Linked DNA regions of Homo sapiens. The protein of the gene in region 1 interacts with the protein of each later gene in a biochemical or structural test. Each region holds a gene or a part of one and is shown in the gene's direction. Other genes may lie near its edges.

Evidence for each region.
Region 2: the proteins of STMN3 (region 1) and TRPC5 form a complex in vitro, tested with the Homo sapiens proteins (one study listed by BioGRID).

What each region holds. Positions count from the first base shown.
Region 1 is NC_000020.11:63,639,206-63,643,454, reverse strand, and holds the end of STMN3 (stathmin-3), read left to right. Parts: intron 1-1,155; coding exon 1,156-1,347; intron 1,348-2,057; coding exon 2,058-2,117; 3' UTR 2,118-3,743; downstream 3,744-4,249. UniProt on the Homo sapiens protein: Exhibits microtubule-destabilizing activity, which is antagonized by STAT3.
Region 2 is NC_000023.11:111,771,744-111,778,779, reverse strand, and holds part of TRPC5 (short transient receptor potential channel 5), read left to right. Parts: exon of another isoform or gene 1-125; intron 126-1,777; coding exon 1,778-2,467; 3' UTR 2,468-7,036. UniProt on the Homo sapiens protein: Forms a receptor-activated non-selective calcium permeant cation channel. Mediates calcium-dependent phosphatidylserine externalization and apoptosis in neurons via its association with PLSCR1.

The sequences.
Region 1 (4,249 bases):
ACAAAATTAGCCAGGTGTGGTGGTGCACACCTGTAATCCCACCTACTAGGGAGTCTGAGGCAGGGGAATTGCTTGAACCCAAGAAGTGGAGGATGCAGTGAGCCGAGACTGCGCCACTGCACTCCTCAGCCCGGGCGACAGGGTGAGACTCCATTTCAAAAAACAAACAAGAACAAAAAAAGAAAGGGATGGAGAGGAGGAAGGGTTCCGAGGCGGCCACCTGGAAGGAGCAGGAGCCTCTGGTGAGGGTGGGAGGCACCCTTGTCAGGGCCAGCAGGATGCTAGGGGGTGGTCCCCAGATGGGCCCTGGGGACGTCGGGTGGGGCATCCCTCTCCCAGACAGGGAAGCTGGAGGAAGGGCCTCATGTGTGAAGACCCTGAGGCTTGCTGGAGGGCGGAGGGGCCCTGGGAGAGGTGGGTGTGGGCTCCAGGTCCCCTCCCTGCAGCCTCCCCTCCCACCAGCCCCTCTGAGACTGAAACAGAGATAAAAATGTCCTTTTGGGGGTGCCACCCTGGAGGCCAACGCATTGGGCAGGGGAAGCGGCTCCGTTCCCTTCCCGGTGAGGCCAGAGACCAGGGTTCACAGGGCTGACTAGTAGGGACTGGCATGTGGGTGCGGGTCCTGCTGCCCCGCTCTCCTCCCAGGGGTCACCAGCCGGCCCCTCCCCCAGCATCCCTGGGGACCCTCCGCTCCTGGGCACCTAATTGGGAGCTGGGAACCCGGTGTGTAACAAGCAGCTACTCTGCTCAGTGGGCGGATGTCCGAGGAAGAGACAAAGCTCAGAGACCGCCCACAAGTTTAGGGTTTCTTGCTGCTGGTCCTTGGAGGGGCAGACGCGCAGGGCAGGGTGTGCAGTGGCGGCAGGGTATGGCGGGGGCCCTGGGCGCAGCCAGGACCGCGGGACCCGCGCGCGAGGCAGGGACGGGGGCGGGGGCGGCGGATCGCGACCCCCTGGCCCTGCCCCGACCACAGGCCGGATGGCAGGCGAGGGTTCCCAGGGCAGCGCCCGGGGGTCCCGGCGCCCACCGAGGCCTGGGCAGGTGGAGGCGCCAGGTGAGGCGAGCGGGCGCTGGGCGGGAGGCGGAGAGCAGGGAGGAGTCCGGCCGGGCAGGGCCCGGGGTTGCCGCTCACGCGCGCCCGCCGGCCCCGCACAGACGCAGGAGGCGCAGGTGCTGAAGCAGCTGGCGGAGCGGCGCGAGCACGAGCGCGAGGTGCTGCACAAGGCGCTGGAGGAGAATAACAACTTCAGCCGCCAGGCGGAGGAGAAGCTCAACTACAAGATGGAGCTCAGCAAGGAGATCCGCGAGGCACACCTGGCCGCACTGCGCGAGCGGCTGCGCGAGAAGGTGCGGGGGCGGGGCCGGGGCGGAGCTCGGAGCGGGCAGGGGCCGGGGCGGGGCCGGGGCGAAGCTCGGAGCGGGCAGGGGCCGGGGCGGGGGCAGGGCTAGCAGCAGTCAGGGGGCGGGGCACTGGGCGGGGGCGGGGCCAGGGCGGAGCTCGGAGCGGGCAGGGGCCGGGGCGGGGCCGGGGCGGAGCTCGGAGCGGGCAGGGGCCGGGGCGGGGGCAGGGCTAGCAGCAGGCAGGGGGCGGGGCACTGGGCGGGGGCGGGGCTAGGGCGGAGCTCGGAGGGGCGCAGAGCGGGGCCGGGGACTCCGAGGCGCTGAGCTGGGGTGGGGGTCGGGGGCTCCTCCCGTGTTTACTGGGCGTCCCCAGCAGCGCACGAGGCAGGTCCAGAGTCTGGTCCTGGCGGGACAGTAACTAGCCGCAGTAATAGATGGCTAAATTCATTATATTGAAAGTGCCCTGAAGGAAGCTCGGCTCCGGTACGAGCTAGAAGCGGGGCCCAGCCAGCTCCCAGGAAACCCGTCCTTGGTCCCTGGCCTTGCTCTGCGCCTCCCCGGTGCTCCCGCCCCCTCAACTCAGTCAGGGTCCTGCCGAAGGCCAGCCCGGATGAGGCCGGGCGGGTGCCAGGGCGCCACGGCCTGCGCGCCTGGGGGTTCCCGGAGTCGCCCCAAGCCACCCCCGCCCTCAGGCCCTCCCGCCCCCTGTCCTGCAGGAGCTGCACGCGGCCGAGGTGCGCAGGAACAAGGAGCAGCGAGAAGAGATGTCGGGCTAAGGGCCCGGGACGGGCGGCGCCCATCCTGCGACAGAACACGTTCGGGTTTTGGTTTTGTTTCGTTCACCTCTGTCTAGATGCAACTTTTGTTCCTCCTCCCCCACCCCCGCCCCCAGCTTCATGCTTCTCTTCCGCACTCAGCCGCCCTGCCCTGTCCTCGTGGTGAGTCGCTGACCACGGCTTCCCCTGCAGGAGCCGCCGGGCGTGAGACGCGGTCCCTCGGTGCAGACACCAGGCCGGGCGCGGCTGGGTCCCCCGGGGGCCCTGTGAGAGAGGTGGCGGTGACCGTGGTAAACCCAGGGCGGTGGCGTGGGATCACGGGTCCTTACGCTGGGCTGTCTGGTCAGCACGTGCAGGTCAGGGCAGGTCCTCTGAGCCGGCGCCCCTGGCCAGCAGGCGAGGCTACAGTACCTGCTGTCTTTCCAGGGGGAAGGGGCTCCCCATGAGGGAGGGGCGACGGGGGAGGGGGGTGATGGTGCCTGGGAGCCTGCGTGTGCAGCCGGTGCTTGTTGAACTGGCAGGCGGGTGGGTGGGGGCTGCAGCTTTCCTTAATGTGGTTGCACAGGGGTCCTCTGAGACCACCTGGCGTGAGGTGGACACCCTGGGCCTTCCTGGAAGCCTGCAGTTGGGGGCCTGCCCTGAGTCTGCTGGGGAGTGGGCATTCTCTGCCAGGGACCCATGAGCAGGCTGCATGGTCTAGAGGTTGTGGGCAGCATGGACAGTCCCCCACTCAGAAGTGCAAGAGTTCCAAAGAGCCTCTGGCCCAGGCCCCTCCCCACCAGGGCTTTGCAGATGTCCTTGAAAGACCCACCCTAGAGCCCTTTGGAGTGCTGGCCCCTCCTGTGCCCTCTGCCCTGGTGGAAGCGGCAGCCACAAGTCCTCCTCAGGGAGCCCCAAGGGGGATTTTGTGGGACCGCTGCCCACAGATCCAGGTGTTGGAAGGGCAGCGGGTAAGGTTCCCAAGCCAGCCCCAACACCCTTCCCACTTGGCACCCAGAGGGGGCTGTGGGTGGAGGCCTGACTCCAGGCCTCTCCTGCCCACACCCTCTGGGCTGAGTTCCTTCTTTCCCTTGGACGCCCAGTGCTGGCCTTGGAGGACGGTCAGCTGGAGGATGGCGGTGGGGGAGGCTGTCTTTGTACCACTGCAGCATCCCCCACTTCTCCACGGAAGCCCCATCCCAAAGCTGCTGCCTGGCCCCTTGCTGTAAAGTGTGAAGGGGGCGGCTGAGTTCTCTTAGGACCCAGAGCCAGGGCCCTCAACTTCCATCCTGCGGGAGGCCTTGGCCGGGCACTGCCAGTGTCTTCCAGAGTCACACCCAGGGACCACGGGAGGATCCTGACCCCTGCAGGGCTCAGGGGTCAGCAGGGACCCACTGCCCCATCTCCCTCTCCCCACCAAGACAGCCCCAGAAGGAGCAGCCAGCTGGGATGGGAACCCAAGGCTGTCCACATCTGGCTTTTGTGGGACTCAGAAAGGGAAGCAGAACTGAGGGCTGGGATATTCCTCATGGTGGCAGCGCTCATAGCGAAAGCCTACTGTAATATGCACCCATCTCATCCACGTAGTAAAGTGAACTTAAAAATTCAATCAAATGAACAATTAAATAAACACCTGTGTGTTTAAGACATGGTTGAACTGTCTGTGTGTGTCCTGCACCTGTGGGGTCGGGGGCAGCTGCGGGCTCCCTGTCTGGGAGTGAAGATCTGCTCTGTGTGTATCTCCAGACTGAAGCTGGTTATAAATCTTATTTTATCATCATGATTATGAATTGTTCTATTGACAACAGTGATTTTAAGATATGAGCATGTAAACTACACACAAGCCCACTTTCCTCTCTGGAATCCAAGGGGTGAGGTGTCAGGGTGGGGGGTGGCAGGGCCCGCTGCTGTGGGTGGGGCTGGCGGGGGCTCCCCTGCCCTCCCTCAGGGCGGAGCCCTCCTCAGGGGCTTCCTGTTGTTCAGGACTCTGTGGCCCGCCGCTCAGGAGGAAAGGGCAGGGCCTACATATGTATGCATCTGAGGCTGGAGCCTCTAGGCTGTGGGACTTCCTGACATGGGGGCAGGTGCTACGAGACCCCTGGGGCTGCACCCCACTGTTCTGTGGACTCACCCCACTCACCCCATTCACCCCT
Region 2 (7,036 bases), on another chromosome or scaffold:
TGAAGGAAATCTGCTGTATGCATTCTTTTAATATTCTGAGTGTTTCTCAGTGTGGAAATTGAATGCTTTAAATGATGTGGCAAGGATGCATGGTGGTGAGGGACAAGATAACAAAGGGAAGATGCCTGCAGACTTAATTATCTTCTTTACTTAAAAGATATAAGATCAAAAAATCTGTTATTAAATCTAAGGTCTTAAGAAACTCTACCATTAAACATTAAAATTATACTAGTGGCATTAGCCTAAAACAACCGTTTTCAACCAGGGGCAATTTTGTCCCCAAGACCACATTTGGCAATGTCTGGAGATATTTTTGGTTGTCACACTGGTATCTAGACAGTAAAGACAAGGTTGCTACTAAGCATCCTACAATGAATAGTACAGTCTCCCACAACAAGAATTATCCAGTCCAACATGTCAATAGTGCCAAGATTGAGAAATCCTATCCTAGAACACATCTATATATATATTTTTTAATTTTTTTATTATACTTTAAGTTCTGGGATACATGTGCAGAACATGCAAGTTTGTTACATAGGTATACATGTGCCGTGGTGGTTTGCTGCACCCATCAACCCATCATCTACATTAGGTATTTCTCCTAATGCTATCCCTCCCCTAACCCCCACCACCTGACAGGCCCCTGTGTGTGATGTTCCCCTCCCAGTGTCCATGAACACATCTATATTTTCTAAGGCACACAGAAAGTCCATTATCCTAATTCATAGACATAATTCATCTACTGAGGGTCTGCTATGTTCCAAGCACTCTGCTAAGTGCTCTGGTACAGTGGTGAGCAAGATCTAACCAGCTCCTACTCTCAAGGAGTGACAAACAATAATAAAGGGTGATGAACAATTTTATATTCTGACAGGTTAAACACAGGACACTGTGGAAACACAGAGAGGAGGGACGCTCATCTGGGACTTGGGGAGTCAAGACAGACTTTCCAATGGAAGTGATGCTTAAGCTGAGGCTTGAAAGCAAAGCCAGCCAGATAAGGGCGAGTTGGGGAGAAGAATGTTCTAGACAGAGAGAACAGCATAGGCAAAGGCCCAGAGGCAAGGGAGAATATGTCCATACAGGTGGACAGCAGAGAGCCTAGGAAAAGAGTAGAAAGATGAAACTGGAGAAAGCAACATGTACTAGGCCTTGAAAAACCTTGTAGTCCATGGTATGGCATTTCTACTTTTTCCTAAAGTCAGTGACAAGTTAGTAACAAGTTTTGAGAAGGGGAAGTACATGAACAGATTTCAGCTTGGCTTTTAAAGGAACAATCTAGTATGTAAGCAGCCAGTTGGAGATAGAAGACATTTCATAGAGGTTTGAACAGGGCCCCCTGTCTCAAAACAGCAGTCTCATCACCTGACATTCAACTTTTCTAGTTTCACTCGTTAGAGTCTTAAAAGCTTTTTCCTCTTCAGTAGTCCTTTTATATGCAGACACCTGAGAGCCAGTGTCCTAATCTAATAACTTGTTAGTTAATACTTAGCAGGAGTTAGTCCTTATGAAAGCACCTCAACAGACTAATCCCTGCTAAAGTGTTAGCTAATCCTGAATCAACTTTACCCATTGTACAATTTTGCCAATGGCCAGCCCAGCCCTGCCCATGGAATTATTAATATGTTTTTCTTGTGTTTGAATAATGGCAGATTTTTCTGGTGTTTTGTGATTTGCTACTAGGCAAAAACCTGGAACATACCAAAGGTATCTAATGTGCCTACTTTGAAATAAAGACCAAGCTTCTTGACATAATATGTCTCCTCTCTTTTCCCAGGAATTAAAGCAAGACATCTCCAGCTTTCGGTATGAAGTGCTTGACCTCTTGGGAAATAGAAAACATCCAAGGAGCTTTTCCACTAGCAGCACTGAACTGTCTCAGAGAGACGATAATAATGATGGCAGTGGTGGGGCTCGGGCCAAATCCAAGAGTGTCTCTTTTAATTTAGGCTGCAAGAAAAAGACTTGCCATGGGCCACCTCTCATCAGAACCATGCCAAGGTCCAGTGGTGCCCAAGGAAAGTCAAAAGCTGAGTCATCAAGCAAACGCTCCTTCATGGGTCCTTCTCTCAAGAAACTGGGTCTCCTATTCTCCAAATTTAATGGTCATATGTCTGAACCCAGTTCAGAGCCAATGTACACAATTTCTGATGGAATTGTTCAGCAGCACTGTATGTGGCAGGACATCAGATATTCTCAGATGGAGAAAGGGAAAGCAGAGGCCTGTTCTCAAAGTGAAATTAACCTCAGTGAGGTAGAATTAGGTGAAGTCCAGGGCGCTGCTCAGAGCAGTGAATGCCCTCTAGCCTGTTCCAGCTCTCTTCACTGTGCATCCAGCATCTGCTCCTCAAATTCTAAACTTTTAGACTCCTCAGAGGATGTATTTGAAACTTGGGGAGAGGCTTGTGACTTGCTCATGCACAAATGGGGTGATGGACAGGAAGAACAAGTTACAACTCGCCTCTAAGTCAAGCCCTAATCATCTGTTCTGGAACTCAACAGAAATCTGTAATTTCCTTGCTCTCAGAGGTGACACAGAATATGATTCCCTCACTGCCCCTGCCCCCCAGAAAGGAGAGTGAAACTCTTATTTGCACCATCTTTTATAGCCACATTCTCCATTTTTGTTCTTGTTTTATTATTACTTTCATTATTATTTGCCTTTTTAATACCTATACACACTAAGTCCATCTTACAACCGACTGAAGGGGTGTTGCACCTAATCATCAGAGGTGCAGTTGGGTGCTTAACCTTTTTGCTTTGCTTTTCTCACCCATGCTTCCTTGAAGCCCCAGGTGCCACTTTGCTGGTCTTGTTGCCGCACAGATTCCTGACCATCCTCAGAATCTCATGCCATTTTCCCGCAGAGCTGAGGGATGTGGTCAGCAGTCCCCACCAGCTATCAGATAAGGCAAACTACCCTGCCCATCTTTGTTGCCATTCAGTGCTACGCGCTGCCCATGCTGGGTCAATGAACAGCATCAAAGGGAGGCTGAAGAGATTTCAAAGAATTGTCAGCTTGTGGTTTCTGGGTATAAGTGGCTTGTTTCGTTCTTAAATACTACAACTTCTTATTGTGGGGGCTATTGAGTTTTCTTGTTTCTTAAAGATGTGTTAGTTTCCTAATGTGTGCCAATGAAATATTTACCCCATAGTATATGTCATATCTAATAAGTTAGGCGAATTATTTTTCTGTTTGTGTGTTTCAGTTAACTTACTACATTTGAAAATTTGATAGTATCAAAATTAGTATTTAGAATTTGTGCTATTTTTTAAAAACATCTACTACACTCTAACCAATAGTCACTACATCTCATACATTGGCAAGATAAATAGTTGTCATATTTGTTGGGTCCTATTCTACTGTTGATAGTTTTAATTATCATTGCTATCAAATAATTTCTAAGATAAAAGCCTGAATTTGAAATATTTTTATCAGAAAAATGGCATATTGCTGAAGTGTCAAAATATGAGAAAAGAGCATCTTCATTTTAATTAACTGCTTTATAAAAATGGCAACTTTAGGTATAGATAACCTAATTCAGGTTGCAGTTTTAATATTCATTGGGGGCAGTGGAATTGCATGTGTAAATTATGTTAGATATATATCATAACAACCCTAGTGGATTCATGGAATTATAAACGTGATCCAAATTCTACTGTCTTCCAAGAAAGCTACATTTATACATCCAAACAAATTCTTTTCCACAGCTTAAGAGTACCTCATCAGAATACAGTGGTTCAAGTTAAAAAATAAAGTCCATAATGCATATGGTCATCATTCTAGACCTGATAACCACTGAGAACCTGCTGAGCAAGGACGGCTTTTACCAACATTAGCACAAAGGTTTCCTCAGTTTAGACTCTAACATATGACCTGAAACAACTCTAGGTCTGAGTCCTAGAGATTACATAAATAGTGTGTAGCCCAGAAAAGTAAAATAGGTGTCACGCTGTTTTTTTTAATGTCAACACCAATAGGAATCCATTTAGATTAATGTATGTAATTTCTGATAAAAGTAAGAGAAATGAGGAACTTTCGAACTGCAAATATGCCTCCAAACTAGCTTTTGATAAGTGTGGTTTCTGTTATTTGAATGGATTCCCATCTTTGTCTCTAGCCTGGAGAAGAGCAAAATGGAGGGGGAGGGGCCAGAAATAGGAGGAGGTTTTGAAGAATAAAGCCTCATATCCAGGAAAAAGTGATCAAGTGAAAAAGCTGCATCAAGACCCATTTGGCAAGAGGTTGTCCGAAAATAATTCCTTGATCATATCTGAAGTGGTTATTTACTCAAATCAATTTCTCCCCTGCTTCGCTAAGACTGTCATAAAATGGCCTTGACATTTAATCACAGGTTACTTTCCAGAAAGGTTTCTAAAGTTACAGATTCAGCTTTTCAAATTGTCAAATTCACTTTGAATAATAATAGAACCTGGGCTACATTCCTAACTCATATTAACAGCACCAAAAGAAATAGCATATAACCCCATTTTATAAAAAGAAAAACATGTTTTTCTCAGAAATGTATATCACTTCTGAAAACTTATAAGTTTTCTAGCAGTGACCTTATCAACTTGTCAGAAAACAGGCTAGCCAGACATGGAACTGTATTCCAAAAGTCTTCTGTCACTTACGTTCTAAAGAGATAATATGTGTAAATCAATCTCTACTATTGAAAGAACCAGTGTCATATGTCACGGGAGTACATTCCTTTTCAGATCTTCTCAGGGTTATCGTTGTGACTTGGGCTTAAGACTTTACTAGCTATAGTGAAGCCTCATTTAGGATGGGGGTTAAAGCTGAACAGCTATTGCCCTAACTTCCATGTTGGTGACACCAACATTTTTATTAACTCTAATTCAGTACAAAGTAGGAAAGGAAAAAGATTTTGTTCACTTCCTTACTCTCTTGATCAAGTATCATAAAAGGTATTTCAAGTGAAAATGCTTAGGTATATCCTCTGACCCCAGAGGAGTTATAAGCCAACTTGAGAGTAAATTTATAAACATAAAAAGAACTAAAAGAGAACTTTATAAAGGATCTACTCTATTCCAACCTCATATTTTACAAATAGAAAATAAAGAGGCCCAGAGAAGGACAATGACTTGCTCAAGGTCACAGAGCTGGTCAATAAACTCAAGTCTTCTAGATTATAGAAGACATTTATTAGTAAGCATATATGTTATATATAGATGTGAAGTGGCCACTACAGACACCCTTTTGTTCATTTGCCAAAAATGCTGTGAACTCCAAAACTTCAGACTTACATATTTAAATGTGAAGTTAAAAATGTACTGCAAAGTCAAACACAAATAATACAAAAATCATTTACTACTTATCTAAAATATCCATATCATGTTCCACCTACATTACAGTTGGCTTATCACTTCCGGACACCTTGGATTCATTTATTTGATCTCATAAAATCTCCCTAATAATAAAGGTAAAAATTACAAAGAAAATATTTGAATTATATTAGAAAGTGACCATTGTTGAAATATCTCCACTTCCAGCTTTATGTCCAGTGAAATACAGAGGAAAGACTAAATTTAAAATCATTTTCGGAAAATGCCAAACTTTACAGAGATATAAATGCTTCAAGTTACGCTTCTGTCTACTGACATGGAGATATTAAAAAATTCCCTGTTCTGCCTCCATCATTTTTCATTCCACTGTGACCTAACTTAGGCTATTTCAGCTAAGTCGTAAATACCTGTCTGCAATTTGATTAAATCATTTTTAAAAAACGAACGCCTCCACTTTTCAAATGACTTAATACCTTTTCCAAAAAGAACTTTATAGTTCTTATGGCAGTGCAAACCTCATCTGAAAACCTCAGTGGGAACTTTAGAGATAAATATGAGGCCAAACCTTAGCCTGAAAATACAAATGACCATTGGCATTCATGTTACATCATGGGTGAATCTCGTGTGGTGTTTTGACTAATAGTTTTAGTGCCCCAGACCTTGGTTTGTTAAATCATCAGGTAAAAAGTACTTGAAGATAGGCAGCAAATCCTTTGTTTAAAAGTACCTTAGAAAAATTGAGGCTGGGCATGGTGGCCCACTCCTGTAATCCCAGCACTTTGGGAGGCCAAAATGGGTGGTTCACTTGAGTCCAGGAGTTTGAGATCAGCCTGGCCAACATGGTGAAACCCATCTCTACTAAAAATACAAAAATTAGCTGGGCATGGTGGTACACGCCTGTAGTCCAACTACTTGAGAGGCTGAGGCATGAGAATCACTTGAACCTGGGAGGCAGAGGTTGCAGTGCACTGAGATCACACCACTGCACTCAAGCCTGGGCGGCAGAGCGAGACTGTCTCAAAAATAAATAAATAAAGGTACCTAAGAAAAATTGAGTATATTTTCTTGGTAATCAAGTTTTCAAAAGATTGCTCATATAGACATAGTCAATGCAAATTGATCCAAGTGTTCAGATCATTTAAATAACCTCTTCATACCTACTTCACAGCCCTACCTTCAATCCCTGCAGCTTTGCCTCAAAACTAAGGATATTTTAGATTGTTTCTTTGGCTTACTTTATCTAGATAATTGCTCCAAATATCCACCTTGTTGGTGTAGGACTCGGCAGTGGGATCTGAGTACCCCAAATGAATGTGAGCTTTACTTCAGCAGAGAGAAACATTGTTACCATTATATTTCCAATGAACCTTCCAGTAACTTTTTTTCCAACAGATGTGGGTTTTGGCTTGCTTTGCCTTTTGAGGGATGTCTGTAAAAGTGAGAACGTGTCTGTGTATATACATAGACACACATAACAAAACTTAACAGCATTTGATGGTTCTGCCCTTGGCCCTTTATCCCTTTAGGTAATTACTAGATCATTTTGAAGAGAGGGAAGCAAGAATAACTTTTCAATGAGACATTTCCTGAGCTGTGAGGAATTGCCAAAATGAACTGCCATGACAGCATCTTCTGTAGCACTTTTATATTGAGAGCTATCAAGATTTGAGGTTCCTGGTTTTGTTTAAAAAAAAAAAAAGCATTTAGGTCAGAATAACTTACCTGGAAG